5 separate regions of the Homo sapiens genome follow, and all the other regions are linked to region 5. The links come from fine-mapping of genetic effects on gene expression. A gene starts in region 5. Each other region holds a variant in brackets. All regions are shown on one strand. Distances are between the middles of the regions.

Region 1 (5,102 bases), 30 kb before region 5:
TAAGACCCTGTCTCAAAAAAAGAAAAAAAAAAAAGGAAGAAGAAATAAACTATATGTGTGTGGTTATTGTTACAAAACACACACACACACACACACACACACACAGAAAATTTAAACTAGAAACTATTGAAAATGTGTTGGGTGCAGTGGCTCACACCTGAAATCCCAGCACTTTGGGAGTTGGGAGGATCACTTAAGCCCAGGAGTTAGAGACCAGCCTGGGCAACATAGTGAGACCCCATCTCTATTACAAATAACAAAATGTAAACAAATTTTCTTTAAATAAAGAAACTATTGAAAATGGGGATGAGTGGAAACTGGGCGAAGGGGCTAGGGACAGGAGTGGGACTTCTCTGAATATATGTTTTTACATAGTTTTGATCTTTGAGTCTTGCATTTTTCATTTTCAAAAAGGAAAAATCTTAGCCGGGTGTGGTGCTGCATGCCTGTAGTCCCAGCTACTTAGGGGGCTGAGGTGGAAGGATTGCTTGAGCCTGGGAGGTTGAGGCTGCCGTGAGCTGAGATTGTGCCACTGCACTCCAGCCTTGGTGACGGAACAAGACTCTGTCTCAAAAAAAAGAAAAAGGAAAAATCAAATTATAAAGAAAAATGTATTATGACTTAAATGGGCCTTATCTCAGGAATGCAAATAATTAACATCCAAAAATCTAGCAATGGCCCAGGAGCAGTGGTTCACACCTGTAATCCCAGCACTTTGGAAGGCCAAGGTGGGTGGGTCACCTGAGGTCAGGAGTTTGCAACCAGCCTGGCCAACAGGACAAAACCCCATTTCTACTAAAAATAGAAAAACTAGCCAGGCATGGTGGTGCACACCTGTAATCCCAGCTACTCAGGAGGCTGAGGCACACGAAACGCTTGAACCTGGAGGCGGAGGTTACGGTGAGCTGAGATCGTGCCACTGCACTCCAGCCTGGGCAACAGAGTGAGACTCTGTCTCAAAAAAAAAAAAAAAAATCTAGCAATGTAATTCACCATATTGCTGAATTCAAAGGAGAAAATTTATACAACTATCTCAATAGATTCTGAAGAGCATTTGATAAAAAAACTCAGCACAGAGAAACCTGATGATAGAAGGAAATTTCCCTAACATAATTAATACAGGCTGTATGTTAAAATCTTACACCAGGCCAGACGCGGTGACTCATGCCTGTAGTCCCAGCACTTTGGGAGGCTGAAGCAGGCAGATCATGATGTCAGGAGATCGAGACCATCGTGGCCAACATGGTGAAACCTTGTCTCTACTAAAAACACAAAAATTAGCTGAGCATGGTGGCGTGTGCCTGTAATCCCAACTACTTGGGAGGCTGAGACAAGAGAATCACTTGAACCAGGGAGTTGGAGGTTGCAGTGAGCTGAGACCACGTCACTGCACTCCAGCCTGGCAACAGAGCGAGACTCCGCCAAAAAAAAAAAAACAAAAAAAAAAACTCACACCAAATATCACACATAACAACGCATTTTCCCTGATCAGGGGAAATGGGCCAGGCATGGTGGTTCACACCTGTAATCCCAACACTTTGGGCGGCTGAGACAGGAGGATCACTTGAGGCCAAAAGTTTGAGACCAGCCTGAGCAACATAGCAAGATTACAGCTCACAAAAAATAAAAATAAACAAATTAAGCCTGGCCAATATAATGAGACCTAGTTTCTACAAAAAATAAAAAAAAAAATTAAAAATTAAAAATTAACTGGGCAACAGAGCAAGACCTCATCTCTAAAAATTAAAAATAAATTCAAAACATTCACAATGTTGTAATACCATCACTGCCATCCATTTCCAAAATTTTTCATCACCCGAAACAGAAACTCTATACGTTACCCAATAACTCCTATTATCCCCTCTTCTAGATATTTTACCTAAGTACAGTCACACAATCTATGCCTTTTTGTGGCTGGCTTCTTTCATGTAGCATGCATCCTCAAATTTCATCTACAATGTAGTGTGTACCAGAATTTCTCTCCTTTTTATGGCTGAATAGTATTCCATTGTATGGGTAAACCACATTTTGTTTATCCACTCATCAGCGGATAGACACTGGGATTGTTGTCATCTTTGGGCTGTTATGAACAACGCTGCTATTAATGCTCATGTAGAGTCATCTGTTTGAGTCCCTGTTTGGAAAT[CT/C]TTTTTTTTTTTTTTTTGAGACGGAGTCTTGCTCTGTCCCCCAGGCTGGAGTGCAGTGGCACGATCTTGGCTCATTGCAACCTCTGCCTCCTGGGTTCAAGCGATTCTCTTGCCTCAGCCTCCCAAGTAACTGGGACTATAGGGGCCTACCATGCCCAGCTAATTTTTGTGTTTTTAGTAGAGACGGGGTTTCACCATGTTGGCCAGGCTGGTCTCGAACTCCTGATCTCAGGGGATCCGCCCGCCTTGGCCTCCCAAAGTGCTGGGATTACAGGCCTGAGCCACTGCGCCCGGCCCCAAGTTTCTTTTTACTAAAGAGATTTCCATCAGATTTTTTTCTAAAATAGAAATACAAAGTAAAAGTGCTTTGCTTTGTTGTGGCTGATGGTGATGAGGTTTAGGAAGTCTTTCTTCCTTCCCCACTTCCTCCTTCACTCCTCTCTCTCTCTCTCTCTCAGGTTAGGAGGTAAGGAAGCCTACTCATCCGTCTAGAAGATGAGCCAGTAGGGGGGGTGTCCTAGTTCAGGTGCTATGACAAAATACCTTAAACTGGATAATTTATAAACAGCAGAAAGTTATTTATTGCTCACAGTTCTGGAGGCTGGGAAGTCCAACATCAAGGCATCAGCAAATTTGCTGTCTAGTGAAGGCCTGTTCCTCATAGACGGCGCCTTCCCTGTGTCCCCACTTGATGGGAGGGTGAAAGGGACAAACTCGCTCCCTCAAACCCTTTTATAAGGACACTGATCCCATCCATGACCCAATCACCTTCCAGAGGCCCCACTTATCAATACCATCACCTTGGAGATTACATTTCAGCCTGTGGATGTGTGAGTGGCCACGACATTCAGACCACAGCGGGAGGGACACGGAGGGTGCTGCTGGGGGATTGCATGGGAGGGGAGCCATCTTTGTGGAGTTGGGGTTCAAAGCCCAGGAGGAGGGCCGTTCATGGGAGGAGGCAGAAGATGAGCCAGATGCGGTTGCAGGCGGGCTGGGAAGATGAGGGCGTCTGGCCTCTCAAGGAAGCCCCTGGGATGTCGTGGGCTGACACGGTGAGTTGCAGAGGGGGAAGCTGAAGGGAGAGAAGGATTAAAAGGGGTGTTTGTGTGTTTGTTTGTTTTTTGAGACGGAGTTTTGCTCTTTCACCCAGGCTTGAGTGCAATGGTGCGATCTCGGCTCACTGCAACCTCCGCCTCCTGGGTTCAAGTGGTTCTCGTGCCTCAGCCTCCCAAGTAGCTGGGATTACAGGCACGCGTCGACACACCAAGATAATTTTTGTATTTTTAGTAGAGACGGGGTTTCCCCATGTTGGCCAGGCTGGTCTCGAACTCCTGACCTCAGGTGATCCGCCTGCCTCCACCTCCCAAAGTGCTGGGATTACAGGCGTGAGCCACCGCACTCGGCCTAAAAAGGACATCTTGAGGTGGGAAATGGAGCCAATCAGAGAAACAGGTGAAGTGGAGGCCTGTATGGGAGGTTCCCCTGCTGTGGAATTTTTCCAGCAGTTCAGCTGCTACAGGGCAGAGGCTGGAAAGATGGCCCTGGGATCTTCCCAGGTGAGAAGACGGAAGGAAAGAGGGGCCAGCAAAGGAGGGGCTGCAGGGGAGTGAGAGAACAGGGGTAGTGGGGGGGCCCAGGCTCCATGGACCACGATCACTGCGGGGAGGCACCTGCACCGCTTCTCCTTCCCATCTGCAACCAGGAGCCAGCTACCGCCCCCTCCCCATCTCCTGCCCCTCCTCACCTACTGTTTCCTTCCTCTCTCCCAAAGTGTTGGGATTACAGGCGTGAGCCACCGCGCCCGGCCAGGAAACCTCCTCTCTGCCCTCGGTTTCTGTGAGGCTCCCAGTCCAGGTTTTCCTCCTGCCTCCCTCAATTTCTCTAATCTCTTTCATAGGCTCCTGCACTGTCCCCTCCTTTTATGCCACCATCCCCCAGGGACCTTCCTTGGCCTTTTCTCTCCTCATTTCACAGCCTTTCCCAGGCCTTCCCCTGCTCAGCCAGTAATCTGTCTCCCAAACTCCTCACTCTCCATATTTCAGGCACAACAGTTGCCAACAGAGGTTCTCAATGTGGCCTCCATCAGAATCACACGGAGGATGAGTTCAGACTCAGGGGGCTGGGCCCAATCCCCAGGCCTGCAGTAGGTCTGGAGTGGCTAGAAGTGTAAGAATTTTTTTTTGGAGACACGCTCTCGTTATGTTGCCCAGGCTGGTCTTGAACCCCTAGTTCAGGCGATCAGCCTGCCTCAGCCACCCAAAGTGCTGGGATTACAAGGGTGAGCCACGGAGTCCAGCCAAGATAATTTTTTTTTTACTTTTTTTTTTAAGTTCAAAAAAATTCTTTACTTATTAGGCTAATTGTGCAATTAAAAAAAAAAAAAAATTGCAAAAACCGCAATTACTTTTGCACCGATCTAATAGCTCGCCCACTGTAAGTAAAGCAGGTAAAGTCAGCCTTTTTCTTCTGGGACCAGACTCTGCTCTGCCCCGCGGTGGTGGCCTCAGGCGCAGCGCTAAAACGCATGAACCATTTAAGGTATTTCCTGAAACTGGAGCGTGATTGGTGAGACTTTATTTGCATACCCACAATGCATTGCGCACTAAATAATGTTCGTCTTTAAAATTATTTCCCCTTTTTCCTTCAACATATCTTTCTCGGAACCGAGATTGCTGTCCCAGAATTGTCTGAAGAAAAAGGCTGAAGTCAATAGCTCTTTTGGGCCGAAGGAAAGTTACCATTACCCGTTTAGGAGTAGCCGTTACCTGAGAACTGTAGTGTCGACGACTGATGTTATACTCTGGTTTCTCTTCAAATCGTATAAATCTTTCGCCTTTTACTAAAGATTTCCGTGGAGAGAAACGAGTGTGAGTCTGAAACCAATTTTTTGAGGCCTTGCGTTTCTTAGCAGGGCTTATTTTAAGTGTTTTAAAAACAGATGCGATTCCGTTA
Region 2 (5,102 bases), 91 kb before region 5:
TGGCTCTGCTGGTCCAGATCTTGCGCTCAGCACACTCTAGGGAATAATTCCACTCCAGAGATGGGGCTGCTTCAAGGTCTTTTCTAGCTGATTGTGGCCCCTCCATTTTCCCCATTTTCTTATCTCCCTGACCAAAATTGCTTTGACTTCTAAATGTTTCTGCTTCCCAGAATGCACCTGACTTATGAAATGGGGATAATACTCCCAGGAAATAGCGCAGGACATCACAAGGACCAAAAAGGCAATTCTTATTTAAATGTTACTATTTGGCCAGCTGCTGCTGTGTTTTATGGCAGTGTTCAGAGCTTGATCACGTTATTTCTTCCTTTTATTAAGAAGGAAGCCAATTGTCCAAGTCAGGAGAATGGTGTGATCACCTGTCACAGACACTTTGTCCCCTCTCCCCGCCCCTTCCTGGAGCTGGCAGAGCTAACGCCCTGCAGGAGGACCCCGGCCTCTCGAGGGCTGGATCAGCAGCCGCCTGCCCTGAGGCTGCCCCGGTGAATGTTATTGGAATTCATCCCTCGTGCACATCCTGTTGTGTTTAAGTCACCAGATATTTTGTTCCCATCAGTTTAGCCCAGAGATAGACAGTAGAATGCAAATACCTCCCTCCCCTAAACTGACTGGACGGCTGCCAAGGAGGCCCCAAACCCAGGCCCCATGCAAAGGCACGTGGTTTCCTTTTCTCCTCTCTCTGCATCTGCGCTTTCCAGATAAGCCCAAAGACAGCAACTTCTCCACTCATGACAAATCAACTGTGACCCTCGCTCCTTCCATTTCTGTCCATTAGAAACCAGCCTTTTCAGCATCTCACCCATTAGCAGCCCCATCACCCAGTGATCAGTCGCCTCAGTAAAGCAGATCTGTGGATGGGGAGCCTACGGGTGGTAAGAAGTGGTGTTTTGTGTTTCATCTCCAGCTTGGTGTTCCATGGCCCCTAGGCGAGGTGATCAGGGAGTGGGGCCAATGGGCCCCCGGCCCTGGCTTTGGGACCTTGTGCTGAGGGATGATTTGCTCCTGACCTTGATTAACTTAACAGTTCCCAGCTGGAAGGGACACTTTCAGGACCCAGTCCACTGTATGGCATTTGTGATGCAGAATTATGCACTGACATGACCCTGGGTGACAGGAAAGCCTTTCGAGAGGCCCAAGGTGGCCTCGCCAGCCCTGCAGTATTGATGTGCAGTATTGCACCACAGCTCTGCGGACCTTGGCCATTGCCGCAGTCGCAGCTTCCTTTTTTCTGTTTGCACTGTTTGTTTGTATGATGTTAGCTAATTCCACTGTGTATATAAATTGTATTTTTTTTAATTTGTAAAATGCTATTTTTATTTGAACCTTTGGAACTTGGGAGTTCTCATTGTAACCCTAACATGTGAGAATAAAATGTCTTCTGTCTCCTCTGTCTCCTTTAGCCTTTTGTCTCCATGCTGCTTTCTTTCTTTCTTTCTTTTTTTGAGACAGAGTCTCGCTGTCACCCAGGCTGGAGTGCAGTGGTGCCATCTCAGCTCACTGCAAGCTCCGCCTCCCAGGTTCACGCCATTCTCCTGCCTCAGCCTCCCGAGTGGCTGGGACTACAGGCGCCCACCACCATGCCTGGCTAATTTTTTGTATTTTTGGTAGAGATGGGGTTTCACCATGTTAGCCAGGATGGTCTCAATCTCCTGACCTGGTGATCCTACCCGCCTCGGCCTCCCAAAGTGCTGGGATTACAGGCGTGAGCCACCACGCCCGGCCCTGCTGCTCTTTCTTTCAAGGGATACTTGCTTTTTATTTTACTCCCCCTCTTTCTGATGTGTGGAAATTACACTAGGACGTAGTTTTAGAGTCTCAGAGCTCTCCCTATGCAGCTGGGCAGTGGGGCTCTTCATTCTTGCGGGTCCACTTCTCTGTATTAGACAGTGACCTTAATAAGAACAGATTTCATCCTGTGGATCTTAGCAGAGGTCACCGTTGTCTGTTTCTCCCTTCAGATGAACACTCTTCCTGATCCTCTCCTCTAGAATTCATCTCCTCCTGCTAGCAGCCGCGTCCTGGAGGAGCAGCGGATGGGGAATCCATTCTGTTTCTTCCTGGTGTTTAGGAAGTTGCCCCACACACAGATTGCCCCGATGTCCAACCAGAAGAAGTGAAACTGCTGCTGGGTCTGGAGAGGTGAAGACCCGTGGCCAGCTTCTGTTGTTGCCATCGGCCATTGCTTTTTGTTCGCTTGCTTTTGGTTTTGCAAGAAGAGCGGCCTCTGTCTCTGATCTGCTTCAAATCATCATTCCATCAGTGACAGAAGTGGC[T/C]GTTCCATCAGTGGTCGCAGCCAGTTCAGCTCCTGCATCCATCCCCAAGTGTTCTGTAAGTCCCAGGGGCATTTTCTGCCTTGTGTTTTTGTCATTTTTCAATCAGTTTCATTCAATGAGAACTCCCTGTGTTACCTGTGTTACGGTGACACCTTGAGAATGGGCTACTTCCCCTCCTAGCAACCCGCAACACCATCCCAGACCTCAGGAGCCAGGTTTGGGCCAGTGCTGTCTCCTGTCGCTCTTACTTTCATCCTTGTCATTCTCTACCCCCTGGTTTTCCTGGTATTTAAAGTCCAGGTAGAGAAGATTTTGACTGGAGGTGGTTAGGTGAGGCTCTCCCCCCACCTCAACCCCCTGCCATTAGTTCACTGGGAGCCTCCCCCTTTCCTCCGCAAGGAGCAAGTTACTACTTCATTTCCTCTTTTCCCAATTTCTGGACAAGACCAAGGCAATTTGACCAACATTTATGGGGCATCAACTCTGAGAGTGCTGAAGGGGCATTTGCCCTCAAAGAGCTTGCAGTCTAGGGACGTAGACACAAGCAATTGCACATAGGCAACTCGTGTTGTGTGCTATTATAACAGTTACATGTGCAACACTGCCTACGAAGGGACTCATTGTTACTAGGCATGAGGTACCAGGAAAGAAGTAGTGTTCATATGAGCCTTAAGAAATCAGTACAATGTCCTCGGGAGGACCAGAGGAAGGACACCCCAGGTGGAAGGAACAGCAGAAATAAAGGCACAGTGGCATGTGTGGGTGTGGGGTGTTGGAGTGTCATAGAATCTGATGAGGTTGGGATCCATGGGGGTAACAGGTGGGAAAACAGTTTACTCTGTTTAAGGTGAACTTATTGCCTGGTGTTTTGTGCTCAGAGCAAATACCCTCTTCAGGAGCAGATACAAAAAGCCGGCATCTTCTCCAGCAGCTCTTAGTAAAATACAAGCCCAGGCCCTTCAGACCCGGATTAGGCAAAGACTATGTCTGTTTTCCAAATACTTGTTAGTACACAAAAGGCACATGAACTTGTAGTTTGTCTGCATGGCAAACCTTTCTTCACTTTGCTCAGTTTTTATTTTTTTGAGACAAGTCTCATTCTGTCACCCAGGCTGGAATGCAGTGGCACAATACCAGCTCACTGCAGCCTCCACCTCCCAGGCTCAAGCCATCCTCCCACTTCGGCCTCCTGAATAGCTGGAACTACAGGTGCACATCATCATGCCTGGCTAATTTTTAAATTTTTTGTAGAGATGGGGTCTCACTCTATTGCTCAGGCTGGTCTTGAACTCCTGGGCTCAAGTGATTTGCCCACCTTGGCCTCCCAAAATGCTGGGATTACAGGAGTGAGCCACCACACCCGGCCTGCTCAGCTTTTAAATTCAACACTCTGCCTACTCTTTTCAAAACTAAAAGTACCATTACCTTAGCTGTAGAACCTAACTCTCTCGAAATGTACCAGAGAAAATCTAATTAATACTCTCATTTTCTGAATGTTCCCCCCTAAAAACAACAAAAACCCCACTAGGAGTGGAATTTGAGGCCTCCCCAACCACCTACCAAAAAAGGAGGGTGAAATGAAAGGAAGAAGAAAAACTCAGCATTCTTTCCTCTGACAAAGAGTAAAACGACAAGGAATATCGGCCTGAATTCTCTTCCCAAGAAGAAAGAAAGCACACCAACGCAGGCATTTGTCTTCTGTCCATGGTGCTGAAGTTTATTCACTTTCAAACCACTTTCAGTAACAGGTGAGGTTCTACCTTAAAATTTAATGCATGGGGTGGGAGAGGCGAGGAAGTCACCATCAAACCACTTTATCTACAGTTAGCATAAGATGTGAGAAGTGTTGACAGGAAGCTGCAGCTTAGATGGGATGATCACAACTCCATGGCAACAAGATGACACAAATGCAGCAGAGACCCCAGGGGACAGGAGCCTCTTGCAGTCTGTCCCTAGGCCCAGCCCTGCTTGTCCTCCCTGGCTGTTATCTTCAGTACTGCAAAGAGAACACAGACATATCTGGCTTGGTGACCTGGCTGTCCTGGAAAAGTCAGCTTCATGTATGAGTGTGCCCATCCTCTGAACTTGATTACTGACCACCTGCTTCCCACCGGCCCCCACCCCAGCCTGATGACCCTCTGAGCTTCATGAATTGATAAGCAAGTTACTCATCAGAGTAAATTTCACTTAAGCCCTTCAGGATCTTGCAATTCTGGGGAGGAATATGAACTGCTAATCAGCCATGCAAAGATAACTTGGCTCTATGAATATTTTAATTTCCCAGTGCTAGTGGCAGTTGCTTTTTTTTTTTTTTTTTTTGAGACGGAGTCTTGCTCTGTCGCCCAGGCTGGAGTGCAGTGGTGCCATCTCTGCTCACTGCAAGCTCCGCCTCCCGGGTTCACGCCATTCTCCTGCCTCAGCCTCCGGAGTAGCTAGGACTTACAGGCGCCTGCCACCACGCCTGGCTAATTTTTTGTATTTTTAGTAGAGACGGGGTTTCACCGTGTTAGCCAGGATGGTCTCCATCTCCTGACCTCGTGATCCACCCGCCTTGGCCTCCCAAAGCGCTGGGATTACAGGCGTGAGCCACCGTGCCTGGCCTTTTTTTTTTTTTTTTGAGACAGTCTCGCTCTATCACCTAGGCTGGACTGCAGTGGCGTGATCTCTGCTCACTGCAACCTCTGCCTCCTGGGTTCAAGTGATTCTCCTGCCTCAGCCTCCCAAGTAGCTGAGAGTACAGGTGCCCGCCACCACACCCAGCTAATTTTTGTATTTTTAGTAGAGCTGGGGTTTCACCATGTTGGCCAGGAT
Region 3 (5,102 bases), 22 kb after region 5:
GGCTAGGGGCAGGAACTCAGCTGGTGGGACAGGCAGCTTGGGAAGCAAAAGGCTACTTGACCCTTGATGCCGCAAACATCCCTGGGCCTGGCCTCATGTCTGTGGCTGGTGATGACATTGCTTTGCCGCAGGTCTTCCTGTCTTCCTGAGTGACCTCAGGCAAGTCACACCTCCTCCCCACAGGGGACTCAGTTTTCTTATCTTTACAAAAGGGAAGTGAACCGGATCCACTGATTGCTGATTTTGTGGATAAATGGGCCCTTTTGAGAATCTGATGAAAGCTACGGCTCTGCTCCCAGAGAAACGCAGAAAATGCCCTTTGCCTGTGGTTTCTGGGGGTTAAGAAGCACTGAGTTCAGATCCACGCAGGTCAGGAGCTATCTGTTTTCCTTTTTTTTTCTTCTTTTTTAAGATGGAGTCTTGCTCCATCGCCCAGGCTGGAATGCAGTGGCGAATTCTCGACTCACTGCAACCTCCGCCTCCCAGGTTCAAGTGATTCTCCTGCCTCAGCCTCCCAAGTAGCTGGGATTACAGGCGCACACCACCATGCCCGGCTAATTTTTGTATTTTTTTAGTAGAGATGGGGTTTCACCATGTTGGCCAGGCTGGTCTCGAACTCCTGACCTCAGGTGATCCACCTGCCTTGGCCTCCCAAAGTGCTGAGATTACAGACGTGAGCCATCGTGCCCAGCCCTATTTTAATTTTTAAAATAGAGACAGGGTCTCACTATGTTGCGCAGGCTTGTCTCAAACTCCTGGGCTCAAGTGATCCTCCCACCTTGGCCTCCCAAAGTGCTGGGATTACAGGTGTGCGCCAGCGTGCCCAGCTGAAATACCCATTTTCCTATGTGCAGACTAATAGGGTCAAACATGGGTATTGGGGGCCAGGCACTGTAATCCCAGCACTTTGGGAGGCCAAGGCGGGTGGATCACCAGAGGTCATGAGTTCAAGACCAGCCTGACCAACATGGTGAAACCCCGTCTCTACTAAAAATACAAAAATTAGCTGGGTGTGGTGGCATGTGCCTGTAATCCCAGCTACTCAGGAGGCTGAGGCAGGAAAATCACTTGAACCTGGGAGGCGGAGGTTGCAGTGAGCCGAGATCATGCCACTACACTCCACACTGGGCAATAGAATGAGACTCCATTTCTAAAAAACAAAAAACAAAAACACACACAAAAAACATGAGTATTGGAACCCTGCTGCAGGGGCTCCCTCCACTGGGACAAGATCTGTCCTGATCATGCCCAGGCCTCCCCTGCATGTGGCTCTGGCATTTTCTCAGTGCTGCTCTGCCTACTCAGAGAAGGCGCGTCCCAGACCCTTTCTCTTGGGGCTTCTCTGAGGTGCCTGGAGCTGGGATGTTCCAGGTCTTCGTTCTTCTCCCAGCCCCTGCTTCTGACTGTAAGTAACCACAACAAGTACAGGGGTTGCCGTGGATTCTGTGCTCATGATGGGCCAGGCTTGGTGCCCCACGCTTGTTCAACACAAATCCTCCCCCTCACCCCATGAAGAAGGGATTATTCCTATTTTATAGATGAGGAAACTGAGGCTTAGAGAGAAGTGACTTGCCCGAGGACATAATCTACTCACTGCACAGCTGGGATTTGAGCCCAGCTGGTTGGACCCTGAGCCTGACCTCTGGGTCTGATGCTGGGTGGGACTGTGCTTTCTGACCCCCAGATGAGGTCGTGCTCAAGTTTGAAATGGGCCATGTGAGAGCGAGGAACCTGGCCTATGACACCCTCCCGGTCCTGATCCATGGCAACGGGCCAACCAAGGTAGGGGGTCCCCAGCCCCTGGGGAGTGTGGGAGGGGGCCAGAGCCCTAATTTCATTCTCACTGTGACCCCACAGTGTCTCCCTGGGGCCAGGGCCACCTTCCTGGGGCCTGCTATGAACTCACTGCCTCTGTCCTCACATCTGAGCTCAGCGTGATGCCTTCTTTTCCTGCTGTGGTGGTCAGTGGTACTCTGTCTGTTCTTGCTGGTCACAGGACACGTAGGAGGCTGCCATCCCCTTCCAGGCCTAGGCTGGGCTACCAGAGCCATCTGCACTGTCACCCCAGGGCAGAGTCACTTATTCACTCAGTAAACCTTTATTTCATGTTTGCACCAGACAGTAAGACATAGTCATAAGCAGGACGGATGTCCTGCATTCATGGTGACAGAAGGGACTGGGTGCAGATGCGGCCAGGGACAGAATGGACCTCACTGGTCCCTGGGGAACTGGCTCATAGCTCATAGCATATTTGAGTGTGGTCCTTCACCGCTGGAATGAGGGAGAGGAAGGAGGATGTGATGTGTTTAAAATGCAAATTTGCTGATTTCACCCAGGATCTGTTCAGATGGAATCTCTGAGCGGGGTGGGACCCAGGAATCTGCATTTTACAAGCTCTCGGGAGAAGCACTAGAGTGCCAAGCCCTCCCCTGCCCTCTCTCAGAGCGGCTTGGTGATCTCCTGGGGATGGAGCATTATCTCCAAGACCCTCTTAGGGAGTGGGAGGGGGCTGGATGGTGCTGACCCACTGGGGGCCCAGGGAGATGTGAGTCAGGGCTATGGCAGGTGGGGCTGGCTGGCTTCTCTGTGACCCCACGTCTCCCCGACAGCTGCAGTTGAACTACCTGGGCAACTACATCCCGCGCTTCTGGACCTTCGAAACAGGCTGCACCGTGTGTGACGAAGGCTTGCGCAGCCTCAAGGGCATTGGGGTGAGGCTGCGCCCAGGCCTGTGCCTGAGGGACACGGGGGGCTCAGTCCCCTGAGATGGCGAGATGGGTGATTCTGGAATAGACTCCATTGTCTTTGGTGGAAAGTGAAGGGGTCACCTCCCTGCCTGGGGTTCTATCCCGGTTGCCACCCAAGTGCCTCCTCCTGGAAGCCCTCTCAGATTGCATGTCTCTAGCTTCCCCCGAGATGTCCAGGTTCTGGTTTCTTCTGCCTGGTCCTTCAGGCTCTCCTGCAGCCCCCTCCCCATCCCATGAACCTCATCCTCATTTA[T/C]GACTCACCTCGAACACCACGCCAGCCACGATCTCCTGACAGCAGGCCCTCAACCGAGTCCTTGTTCCAGGCCTGGGCTCCTGCTGCTCTCTCCCCGGGGCACCCTCCTGCTGCTTCCCTGCCCCCCCGTACCCCCTGACTGGAGTTCCCCGGCCCGGGCACCTTTCTTGGGAAGTCTACATGCTTCTGATTCTGGCTCTGACTCCCTTGGGCCACCCTGGGGTGGAGTGGCAGTGCTGTGACTGGACACTGCTGGACTCTTGTGCCGCCCTCCCTGGTGCAGGATGAAGCTCTGCCCACGGTCCTGGTCGGCGTGTTCATCGAACAGCCCACGCCGTTTGTGTCCCTGTTCTTCCAGCGGCTCCTGCGGCTCCACTACCCCCAGAAACACATGCGACTTTTCATCCACAACCACGTGAGTAACAGGCGCTCTGTGGGGTCGTCATGTGGCTTAGATCCAGGGCCCAGCTTCACAAGGTAGCCCGAGACCTCTGAGGGTCTCACCGAATCTAGCTTATCTGGGCCAAATGACAATCACCAGTGGACTGTGTCCCCAAATCACTGAGTTAACTTTGGAGTCAGACTGGGTGAGTTTGAATCCCAGCGCCGCTATTTTATTGGCTGTGTGACCTTGGGCACATTACTCAACCTCTCTGTGCTTTAGTTTCTCATCTATAAAATAGGCATAAAAGTCGGGCGCGGTGGCTCATGCCTGTAATCCCAGCACTTTGGGAGGCCCAGGTGGGCAGATTATCTGAGGTCGGGAGTTCGAGACTAGCCTGACCAACATGGTGAAACCCTGCCTCTACTAAAAATACAAAATTAAGCTGGGTGTGGTGGCAGATGCCTGTAATCCCAGCTACTCAGGAGGCTGAGGCAGGAGAATCGCTTGAACCTGGGAGGCAGAGGTTGCAGTGAGCCGAGATTGCGCCATTGCACTCCAGCCTGGACAACAAGAGCAAAACTCCGTCTCAAAAAAAATAAAAATAAATAAATAAATAAATAAAATAAAATAGGGATAATAATTGTGCAATCACACAGAATTGCTGCAAGGGCTAAGCAAGCTGACATGCGAAGTTCGTAAAAGGTGCCTGGTGCACAGGACGCATCTAGTTGCTTCTAACTGTTGTCATCTTCACTTCCATCCCTGTCACTGTTAATCCTTCCTACCTTCCTAATTGTACCTGGTGGCAGTCAAATTGGTTTTCTTTTCTTTTTTTTTTTTTTTGAGACAGAGTCTCGCTGTGTCACCCAGGCTGGAGTGCAGTGGCACGATCTCGGCTCACTGCAACCTCTGCCTCTTGGGTTCAAGCGATTCTCCTGCCTCAGCCTCCCAAGTAACTGAGACTACAGGCATGCGCCATCACAACTGGCTAATTTTTTGTATTTTTTTTTTTTTTTTTGAGACGGAGTCTTGCTCTGTTGCCCAGGCTGGAGTGCAATGGCGTGATCTCAGCTCAGTGCAACCTCTGCCTCCCAGGTTCAAGCCATTCTCCTGCCTCAGCCTCCCGAGTAGCTGGGATTACAGGCGCCTGCCACCGTGCCTGGCTAATTTTTTGTATTTTAGTAGAGATAGGGTTTCACTATGTTGGCCAGGATGGTCTCGATCTCCTGACCTCGTGATCTGCCTGCCTCCGCCTGCCAAAGTGCTGCGATTACAGCCATGAGCCACCGCACCCAGCTGGATGGTTGTTTTTCCTTTTTTTTTTTTTTTTGAGATGGAGTCTTGCTGTGTCTCCCAGGCTAGAGTGCAATGGTGCGATCTTGGCTCACTGCAACCTCCGCCTCCCAAGTTCAAGCAGTTCTCTGCCTCTGCAACCTCCGCCTCCCGGGTTCAAGCAGTTCTCTGCCTCAGCCTCCTCCCGAGTACCTGGAATTACAAGTGCCTGCCACCATGCCCGGCTAATTTTTGTATTTTTAGTAGAGACGTGGTTTCACCATCTTGGCCAGGCTAGTCTTGAACTCCTGACCTGGTGATCTACCCGCCTCGGCCTCCCAAAGTGCTGCGAATACAGGCGTGAGCCACTGTGCCTGGCCTGGACTGTTGTTTTTCAAAGCGAAGTTGAGGATCACCTGGCACATTTTGTAACAAAGTGGATCTC
Region 4 (5,102 bases), 56 kb after region 5:
CAGCCTCCCAGAGTGCTGGGATTACAGGCATAACCCACCATGCCTGGCTGTTTTTTTTTTTTTTTTTAAATAGAGACGGGGTCCTACATTGCCTAGGCTTGTCTCGAACTCCAAAGTTCAAGTGATCTGCCTGCCTTGGCCTCTCAAAGTGCTGGGATTATAGGTATGAGCCACTGAACCTGGCCCCTAACCAATAGTGTTTTTATGTGGTCTTGCTCTGTCTCCCAGGCTAGAGTGCAGTGGACTGATCATAGGTCACTGCAGCCGAAACTCCTGGGCTCAAGTGACCCTCCCACCTCAGACTCCCAAGTAGCTAGGACTGCAGATGCATGCCACTGTGTCATGCTAATTTTGTTTTATTTTTTGAGACAAAATCTCGCCCTGTCACCCAGGCTGGAGTACAATGGCATGATCTTGGTTCATTGCAGCCTCCATCTCCCAGGTTCAAGTGATTCTCCTGTCTCAGCCTCCCAAGTAGCTGGGATTACAGGTGTGTGCCATTGGGTCTGGCTAATTACTGTATTTTTAGTAGAGACGGGGGTTTCACCATGTTGGCCAGGCTGGTCTTGAACTCCTGACCTCAGGTGATCCACCTGCCTCAACCTCCCAAAGTTCTGAGATTACAGGGGTGAGCCACCGCGCCCAGCCTGAGACACTGTTCTTATCTCACCGTCCTTTGTTCTAGTCCTGGAGGTTGCAGTGACCTGAGATCCCCATATTCTTGATTCTCCCCAAAGCATTCCGCCATCTCCCTAGCAGGATGTCCCGAGGTAGGTGTTGCTGGGTTCGCTCACGTTAGCTTCTCTTGCAGCGCAATGTCCCTGCTCTTCTCTCGATGCAACTCTATCGTCACAGTCAAGAAAAATAAGAGACACATGGCTGAGGTGAATGCATCCCCACTTAAGCACTTTGTCACTGCCAAGAAGAAGATCAATGGCATTTTTGAGCAGCTGGGGGCCTACATCCAGGAGAGCGCCACCTTCCTTGAAGGTAAGGGGGCACCGGCTCAGCCAGGCCCGCTCTTACCTGTTTAGATATTTAGCTAGTGGGATTTGCGGGTGGGGAGGTATATCTCTGCTCCCAGGGAAGTCATAACCAGATAGCCTTAGAAATGCTCTGCTCTTGAAATCATGTGGAATTGGAGTCTGGGGAGATGAGGCCAGGAAGACAAGGGAACTGCCATTTAGTAATTACTTTAAGAAGTCCACATGTTTTGTTTCATTTAATCATGAAAGATAGGTGAATCTTATCCCCATCTACAAGGCAAGCAAATTGAGGTTTGAGAGTTGTCCGATACCTTGTAAGTAATAGATCAGGGTTTTACCCAGGTGTCTCCAACTCCGGAGCCCACGTGTTTTCCTTTGCCTAGTTCTGGCTGCCATTAATACCAGGCACTGTTTGGGTGTCAGTGATCCCTGACCAGGGCGCCCTTTCTTTGATATTTTTAGATTGGTGACAGAACTATAGGAAACTCACGTCACCTATGCCTTTTCTACTAGTTACTAATTTGAGCCCAACCTCTAGTTCCTTGTCTATCAGCAGAGAAGGACTGGTTCCCAGGGCCCCGCTCGTCTGAGTGTCAACTCCAGCACTGGCTTCCTCAGGCTCCCTCTTTAGAAGGACACTTTGGCGCCAGGTCCTGAGATTGTCTGTGGAGACCCAGTAACTGAGTCTTATCTGCCCTTGGTTTCCTCACTTGTGAAAGTGGGGCTCAGGTGTGAACAGTGGTTTCAGATTCTAGTCTGCAGAACCCTAGAAGTTCAGTGGTGGTGCTTCGGGGGTTGGCCCCTGGCTCAGGGGGGCCACCTTCTTTCCATTCTGCTTTCAAATAGAGCAGCTTGGCTTCTCGTTGTTTTACATGCCAGGCTGCTACACGAGGCTCCCTTTGAAGAAAGAGACTGTCCAACTTCATGCCCTCATCTGTGCCCTGCCCTTTGCGTGGCGCTTGATGCCACAGAAGGTGTTTCCTAAATACTTGTTGAACTAAAACAAATCTGAATTTTAAAGTAGTATGATTGGTAGTTGAAATAATCCCAACTCATTGCCTGTTTATCAGTGGCTATGGTGTGCCAGCCGTGTGCCAGGTGCTGGGCATGCAGAGATGGGGTAGATCAGGCCGCTCCCCTCTGGGAGCCCAGACTAACCCTCTTGGAAGCTCTGAGTCACCTACTCAGATGATGTGGTGGACAAACACATGCGTAATGCAGGTGTTTATGTGATGCA[T/C]GCTTTGATTTCTCTGTGTGTGAAAATATGAGGCCTCCCCTGTTGTTTAAATGGAAGGGAAAGAGCTGGAGTGATCCTGAGCTGTGCTGGGTCAGGGAAAGAATGGTTCCTGCCTGGGCACTGTTTCTAACGGGCAGGTAACAAGAGCTTGTTGGCCTGCTGGCTCTCGCTTTTAAGTGTAGTCACATGCTTGAGAGCCAGCTTCCTCCGAGGGACATTCCAAAGGCCATGCCCAGGTGCCCATATAAGGGAGGAATATTGATGCATCTGGGGCAGAGGTGACCGGTGGACATAGCGGGAGGGGAGATGGGGGTGTTGTTGACTTGGTCATTTCCTTTCATGGCGCTGGCTGTGGGGGAAATTCACTGGGCAGGCCCTTGTCATGCTTCAGATGCTTTCGGAGTGTTCTCAGGGCTGGGGCCTGTCAGCCTCATAGTTCCCAGGAGTGTGCAGAGGGGCTAAACACCCGTCTGTGTTCCAGCCAGCTGAAGCACCTGTCTGGTGCGAGTTCTAGACAGGACAGTGGTGGGATCTCACTCAGTTGCTCCTGTATGGAGTAATTTGTTGGCCATCTGCCTGTTAAGGGCACTGGGAAAAAGCAGTGCAGTGATCCAAAGGTCTGCTCACGTAGCAAACATTTGTGCACCTGCTGGGTGCTGGGGTCAGATAGTGTGGCCCTCATGAGGCAGATGACACAGACAGGTGAGCTGTACAGTTACCTTATGGTGAGGTGAGAGCTGAGATGGGAGAAGTGCAGGGTGCTGGGGCACACAGAGAAGGGGTCCGGGGTCCTGACTCAGGTTAGAGGGGTGGTCAGAGAAGGCTTCCTGGGGGCAGTGCTGTCTAAGCTAGACCGGAGGCCAAGTGAGAATGAGCCACGCTGCCCCAAGGCAGTGTAGTGTGTCAGTTCTTCAGAGAGTGGGGAGGGGGTTTGGGCAGCAGGGAATGGAGCCAGAGGGCCGAGGAAGCTGGTGAGTTTGGGGATATGGTGAGGGAGACCGTGAGGCAGCGGGTGGCAAGAGGCCAACAGGGCCAGGGCAGGGAGGGCCTCAAGAAGTGACATAGAGGCCGGGCGCGGTGGCTCACGCCTGTGATCCCAGCACTTTGGGAGGCCGAGGCGGGCGGATCACGAGGTCAGGAGATCGAGACCATCCCGGCTAAAACGGTGAAACCCTGTCTCTACTAAAAATACAAAAAATTAGCCGGGCGTAGTGGCGGGCGCCTGTAGTCCCAGCTACTTGGGAGGCTGAGGCAGGAGAATGGCGTGAACCCGGGAGGCGGAGCTTGCAGTGAGCCCAGATCCCGCCACTGCACTCCAGCCTGGGCGACAGAGCGAGACTCCGTCTCAAAAAAAAAAAAAAAAAAAAAAAAAAAAAGAAGTGACATAGAGTGGTTAAGAGCCTGGACTCCAGAGCCAGGCTGCCTAATTCAAATCATAGCTCTGCCTTTTACTAACTCCGGAGCCATGTTAATAAAGAGGACCAAAGGAGAGAATGAATTTGAAAAGTGAAAGGAACAGTGCCTGGCATGTGGTAAGAACTTCGTAAATATTTGTTAAGAAAAAATAAACAAGGAAGGCAGTTAACATTTAAGTATTCATCTTCTACCAGCCGCCATTCACAGCATTTGTGTTTCAATTCGTTTGATCCTCACGATGTTCTCATGAAGTAGATAATGTAGTTATCTCCGTTTTGTGCTTAAGGAAACTAAGACCCAGAAAGGTTCTTTTGCTTGAGGCCACAGAGCTAGAAAGTGGTAAGAACCAGCTTCAGAACCAGGCAGTGTTGCTCCTGAGCCATCTTCTTAACCACCACACCGTGGGGCCACCATAGAGGATCTGGAGCTCAGCCTGTCGGCTGCAGGGTGCCAGAGGTGGACTCGTTTAGGGTAAGCAGGGCCGGCGCTCTGGCCCTTCCAGACTTGGGACTGTGGAACTCCTCTGACCACGTGGTGACCCATTTTCAATCCCCACCTCCAGACACGTACAGGAATGCAGAACTGGACCCCGTTACCACAGAAGAACAGGTTCTGGACGTCAAAGGTTACCTATCCAAAGTGAGAGGCATCAGTGAGGTGCTGGCTCGGAGGCACATGAAAGTGGCTTTTTTTGGCCGGTAAGTCCTTGAGGCACCCACCCTTTCTTTCTTCCTGGCTAGGAGGGAGGGAGGCACTTTGTGCAAGGTCACAGAACGTTCCAGGCAGGGACATGCTTCAGAATTCATTGCTTTCCTCTTAATTTATATTTTATTTATTTATTTGATTTTTGAGACAGGGTTCTCTGTCACCCAGGCTGGAAGCTCATTACAGCCTCGACCTCCCTGGGCTCAGGTGATCCTCCCACCTGAGCCTCCTGAGCAGCTGGGACTGCAGGTGCATGCCATCAAGCCTGACTTTTTTTTTTTTATTTTCTAATTAAGGTTAAAGGCATATAATATAAAATTTACCACCTTAACCATTTTAAGCATACAATTCACTAGTAGGTATATTTGCAACCAGTCTCAAGAGCTTTTTCATCTTGCAGAACTGAAGCTTGTATTATAGCCATTAAACAATAACTCCCTGTCCCACATGTCCCTTGCCCTGGCCACCACCATTCTACTTTCTGTCCCTATGAATTTGACTATTCTAGATGTCTCACGTAAGTGGAATCATACAGTATTTGTTTTTTTTTCTCCATTCATAAAACTTTTATTCCACTTACATGAATTTAATACACGTGTTCTTAACAATTGTGCTTGTATTGTTCATGAAAATTTCGTAAGACATTAAACAAAGCTAGCCATCATCTCAAGTTATTTCCCTGTTAACTATTTTTACAGTGCATGCATGTTAGGCAAGCATCAAAAAAAAATCACAAAAGCAAAGAATCTAAAAATATG
Region 5 (5,102 bases):
GCACATGCCACCATGCCCAGCTAATTTTTGTTTTTTTAGTAAAGAAGGGGTTTCACCATGTTGCCCAGGCTGGTCTTGAATTCCTGGGCTCAAGCAATCTGGCTGTCTTGGCCTCCCAAAGTACTGGGATTACAGGCATGAACCACCGCACCCAGCTCATCTGAATGCTGTTGATTTATTAATATCTTTTCCCAGCACAGACGCATAGCCTGCTCTTTGTCGTCCATTGACATTCGTGACATTCCTTCTCTCCCACCCCTTTGCCCCCTGCAGGGAACCCCCTGCCAGCCTAGGGTTACACCTGCCACCCACTCCTCTGGAGCCTAATCAGCTGGGAGAAGGCTCCTGGGTCCCTGTCTAAGGTCTTTTTTTTCTTTTTTTTTTTTTTTGAGACAGAGTTTCGCTCTGTCGCCTAGGCTGGAGTGCAGTGGTTCAATCTTGGCTCACTGCAAACTCAGTCTCCTGGGTTCAAGTGATTCTACTGCCTCAGCCTCCTGAGTAGCTGGGATTACAGGCGCGCGCCACCACGCCTGGCTAATTTTTGTATTTTAGTAGAGACAGAGTTTCACCATGTTGGTCAAGCTGGTCTTGAACTCCTGACCTTGTGATCCGCTCGCCTCAGCCTCCCAAAGTGCTGGGATTACAGGTGTGAGCCACCGTGCCCGGCCTCTGTCTGAGGTTTCTTCCAAGGAAGGAAGGATTTTTGTTCAGAGGTGGCTGCCCCTGTCTGACATCTGGTCCAGGAGCCCTTACTCTAGAGACCGTTGAGTTGTTTGTTGGGCTTTGGGTATCTGTGAAGAGGCCCTAAAAACTTTCATCGATTCGTTTACTCATTTAACAATTAATCTCTCTAGGGTGTGGTGGCTCAGCCTGTAATCCCAGCACTTTGGGAGGCCAAGGCGGGTGGATCATCTGAGGGTGGGAGTTCAAGACCAGCCTGACCAACATGGAGAAACCCCACCTCTACTAAAAATACAAAATTAGCTGGGCATGGTGGCACATGCCTGTAATCCCAGCTACTCGGGAGGCTGAGGCAGGAGAATTGCTTGAACCCGGGAGGCGGAGGTTGCCGTGACCCCAGATCTCGCCGTTGCACTCCAGCCTGGGCAACAAGAGTGAAACTCTGTCTCAAAAAAAAGGTAGAAAAATTAGCCAGGGATGGTGGCTCAGGCCTGTGATCCCACCTACTTGGGAGGCTGAGATGGGAGGATCGCTTGAGCCCGGGAGGTCGAGGCTGCAGCAAGCGGTGATCACGCCACTGCACTCCAGCCTGGGCAACTGAAAGCAACCTTGTCTCAAAAAAATGAAAAAAAAAAAACAAAAAACAAAAAAACCTCAGAAGCAAGACTTTCCTTGGCTCAGAGGTTTGCCTCCCAGGGACACAAAGGGAGATCAAGTGATTGCCTTTTGGGGAGAGTGGAGACGGGCTTCCTGCATTTCCAGTGCCTGGGTGGGCCACGTAGGGGTGTCCGTGTCTCTGAACGCATCCGTGCCCACCCTCACCCCTTGGGTTTTGGGAAGGACTAATGAAATCATGAAAACTGACTTCCTTGGGGCTTGACCTGGGGCTGCTCTAAGTGCGCTACAGGTAACGCCATTAACCCGTGCAAGACCCAATGAACAGACGCTATCATAAGCCCCACTTTTCAGGCGAGCAAACAGGGGCTCGTGGCTATCGATGCCATGGAGCCTTGGCCCAGAACCTGGGGTCTAGAAATCGTGGCCTCTCTCTCCTCTCACCGCCCTCTTTCTGGTCGGAGTGAACCCCCCAGAGAAGGGAGGGAGACGGCAGGGCCTGACGGAAGCCCCGGGAGCTGCACAGAGAGGCGGAGGGAGCTGCCCTAATAAGGAGAGGCCCGGACTTGGGCATATCTGCAGAAAAACCCTTCCCCACTAGGCAGGCGCGGGGGAGGGCGTGGAGGGGCGGGGTGGTGCCGCCCCCGGGGCGGGCCCAGTGCGTGGCAGCGGGACCTGCGGCCCCGTCGCGAAGTTTCCAGCCCTGCGAGCGCCGCCGGGTCGGCCGATCGTCCCCCATACCTCGGCCATGCGGCCCCTGCTGCTACTGGCCCTGCTGGGCTGGCTGCTGCTGGCCGAAGCGAAGGGCGACGCCAAGCCGGAGGGTGAGGGAGCGAAGGCCGGGGGCGGGAGCGCGGATCCGGGCGGGAGGGCTGGTGTCGGGCTGCCTCCCTGGGAACGACCTGAATGGGAGGCCTGGGCTGGAGAGGGAGTCTGGGTTCCGGCTCCTTGTCCACTTAATCGCTGGTGACTTGAACAAATCACTTCCCCTCTTGGGGCTGCGGTTCCTGCTTCGGGAAGGAAAGGGTGACAGCTGAGTCCCATTCAGCACAGAAAGGCTCAAATAATAATAGTTTTCATAATAATAACCGACAATGGCTATTCTGCCCAGTGCTCACTATGGGCCAGGCATCAGTTAGGCATGATTGCTACCCTGGTAAGTGTTTCCTTCTATTATCCCCGTTTTCCAGCTGGGCAAACTGAGGCTCCAGAGTTCATTCACTTGCCCAAGATCATACAACTTGTGGGCCTTGGAACCAGGATTTACCCCACCCACCCAGGTGTCTGGTTCCAGAGCCAGGAGGCCTCATGACCATGGGAATGAGGGGTCTTGAGGGGGACAGGGGAGGAATGGGGGTAGAAGGTGTGGCTCACTTTGTGGATAAGTTTGTGCTTTCATCCATGTCCCCTGTGGTCTGCTTAGCCCCTGCCAGGGTGGTCTTCCTCTCTGCAGTTTATTTTTTTTATTTTACTTAATGTATTATTTATTTAGTTATTTATTTATTTTTGAGACAGAGTCTTGCTCTGTCGCCCAGGCTGGAACGCAGTATGCGATCTCGGCTTACTGCAACCTCTGCCTCCCAGGTAAAAGCAATTCTTTTTTTTTTTTTTGAGATGGAGTCTCGCTCTGTCGCCCAGGCTGGAATGCAGTGGCACAATCTCAGCTCACTGCAACCTCCACCTCCCAGGTTCAAGTGTTTCTCCTGCCTCGGCCTCCCAAGTAGCTGGGATTACAGGCACGTGCCACCATGCCTAGCTAATTTTTGTATTTTTAGTTGAGATGGGGTTTCACCATGCTGGCCAGGCTGGTCTTGAACTTCTGACCTCTTGATCCGCTGGCCTCAGCCTCCCAAAATGTTTGGATTACAGGCGTGAGCCATCGCGCCCGGCCGGTTCAAGCGACTCCTGTACCTCAGCCTCCCAGGTAGGTGGGATCACAGACATGTGCCACCATGCCCAGCTAATTTTTGTATTTTTGGTGGAGATGGGGTTTCACCATGTTGGCCAGGCTGGTCTTGAACTCTTGACCTCAGGTGATCAGCCCACCTTGGTCTCCCAAAGTGTTGGGATTACAGGCGTGAGCCACCACACCTGGCCCTCTCTGCAGTTTATACTTGAGGAAACTGAGGCCCAGACAGGTGAAGTGACTGTCCAGGGTGGTCCAGACAGAGGTGGTTGGTCCGAGGTCAGCTGGGCTCCAGTCTAGCGCTCTTTCTACTTCCTCAAGGCAGATTGGATTGCAGTGTGTGCCCCACTGTCCTGAGTGGGTGCTTCCCTCCTCCCCAGCCCTCCCTGGCATGGGCCATCTCCAGGGCTGTCCCGAGAAGGGCATAGACTGCGGACAGTCCCAGCAAAGCCAAGCAGAAGTGGCGGTACTTTCCATGGCATTCTCCTCCTTCAGCTTACCCTCCTGGAGAACCTGAAACTGTATCACCAGAAGGATCCCGGGTTCTTTGGGTCAGGAATGGGAACCACCATTTATTTTATTTTATTTATTTAATTTTTTTTTGAGACAGTGTTTCACTGTGTCCCCCAGGCTGGAGTGCAGTAGCATGACCTTGGCTCACTGCAACCTCTGTCTCCTGGGTTCAAGCAATTCTCGTGCGTCAGCCTCCCAAGTAGCTGGGATTACAGGCCTGCACCACCACGCCCAGCTAATTTTTGTATCTTTAGAAGAGACGAGGTTTCGCCATGTTGGCCAGGCTGGTTTCAAACTCCTGACCTCAAGTGATCCTCCTGCCTCGGCCTCCCAAAGTGCTGGGATTACAGGTGGGAGCCACTGCACCCAGCCAGGAACCACCATTTCTTTTCTTTTCTTTCTTTTTTTTTTTTTGAGGCAGAGTTTCACTCCCGTTGCCCAGGCTGGAGTCCAATGGTGCGATCTCAGCTCACTGCAACCTCCGCCTCCCAGGTTCAAGCGATTCTCCTGCCTCAATCTCCCTAGTGGCTGGGATTACAGGCGGATGCCACAACGCTCAGCTAATGTTTGTATTTTTAGTAGAGACGGGGTTTCACCATGTTGGTCAGGCTGGTTTCAAACTCTTGATCTCAGGTGATCCGCCTACCTCGGCCTCCCAAAGTACCGGGATTACAGGCGTGAGCCACCGCGCCCGGCCAGGAACTGCCATTTCTTGAGTACCTCCCTCGGACCAGGTTGTGCCCAAGGCCCCACGTCTCCCAGTGGTAAAGCCGGCGGTGCTTGCTCTCTGTGAGGCTTGGTGTTCTAGCCTGCAAGACCCGGTGATACTACCTCACGCCTGGAGCTCTAACAAGAATTCCAGGGGATGAAGTTGGGGAGAGTTCAGCTCAATGCCTGGCCCATGAAAGGCCCTCGGCAAAGGGCATTTTCTCTCCCAGTCCCAGGGCTGCTGGCTTACAGCAGGGCAGTAAGACAGCTCAGAAAGTCCAGTGATGGAAACGCTGACCACCGGGCTGTGCAAAGGGCTCTCGGCCTGGGTCCCCTCACTGGCCAGGAGCCCTGTTGTGGCCTAGTTTTCTGGGCCTTTGATCCCCCTGCTTCTGCTGACATGGGGTGCCTGCATCCCAGACCATCCCAGGAGAGAAACCGCAGCTGCCCATGATGAAGCCCGGTGAGTTGAATTGAAGAGGGACCAGACTGATGACAGGGCGTTAGGCACCCTGATCCCCAGCAAGTGACAGGAGGAGGGCAGAGCAGATCCAAGGAAGCCTTCACAGAGGGTGCTGCTATGGGCGGAGGACAGGATCAGTGTGCTACTGAGGTAACCCAGGTAGAGCACCTGGTAGGTAGAAAGCACATCTGTGCTCACTGATGCACAAGAGAGCAG

What was found. PIP is the estimated chance that this variant, and not a neighbour inherited with it, causes the effect.
Region 1: its variant is fine-mapped to the expression of PLOD1 in monocytes (Schmiedel 2018, PIP 0.95).
Region 2: its variant is fine-mapped to the expression of PLOD1 in whole blood (INTERVAL, PIP 0.91).
Region 3: its variant is fine-mapped to the expression of PLOD1 in whole blood (TOPMed, PIP above 0.99).
Region 4: its variant is fine-mapped to the expression of PLOD1 in whole blood (INTERVAL, PIP 0.94).

The regions. Positions count from the first base shown.
Region 1 is chr1:11,903,207-11,908,308 of GRCh38, forward strand. It overlaps RNU5E-1 (RNA, U5E small nuclear 1), which reads left to right and starts at 4,946; the gene lies at 4,946-5,066. RefSeq lists enhancers at 4,732-4,841, 5,074-5,102 and silencers at 5,012-5,061, 5,086-5,102. The variant CT/C (reference allele first, on the strand shown) is at 2,147.
Region 2 is chr1:11,841,728-11,846,829 of GRCh38, forward strand. It overlaps CLCN6 (chloride voltage-gated channel 6), which reads left to right. Exons shown (of 23, transcript NM_001286.5): 23 at 1-1,403. It overlaps NPPA (natriuretic peptide A), which reads right to left. Exons shown (of 3, transcript NM_006172.4): 3 at 3,982-4,287. The coding sequence ends at 4,282. It also overlaps NPPA-AS1. Among named protein-coding and RNA genes, the nearest start is that of NPPA, 3.5 kb to the right of the region's middle. RefSeq lists an enhancer at 5,092-5,102. The variant T/C (reference allele first, on the strand shown) is at 2,292.
Region 3 is chr1:11,955,233-11,960,334 of GRCh38, forward strand. It overlaps PLOD1 (procollagen-lysine,2-oxoglutarate 5-dioxygenase 1), which reads left to right. Exons shown (of 19, transcript NM_000302.4): 7 at 1,685-1,782; 8 at 2,610-2,711; 9 at 3,284-3,415. Among named protein-coding and RNA genes, the nearest start is that of MFN2, 23 kb to the right of the region's middle. The variant T/C (reference allele first, on the strand shown) is at 3,001.
Region 4 is chr1:11,988,354-11,993,455 of GRCh38, forward strand. It overlaps MFN2 (mitofusin 2), which reads left to right. Exons shown (of 19, transcript NM_014874.4): 3 at 812-990; 4 at 4,202-4,337. The coding sequence starts at 816. Among named protein-coding and RNA genes, the nearest start is that of MFN2, 10 kb to the left of the region's middle. The variant T/C (reference allele first, on the strand shown) is at 2,224.
Region 5 is chr1:11,932,736-11,937,837 of GRCh38, forward strand. It overlaps PLOD1 (procollagen-lysine,2-oxoglutarate 5-dioxygenase 1), which reads left to right and starts at 1,982. Exons shown (of 19, transcript NM_000302.4): 1 at 1,982-2,120. The coding sequence starts at 2,045. RefSeq lists enhancers at 765-1,690, 1,521-1,570, 1,691-2,614 and a silencer at 1,791-2,260.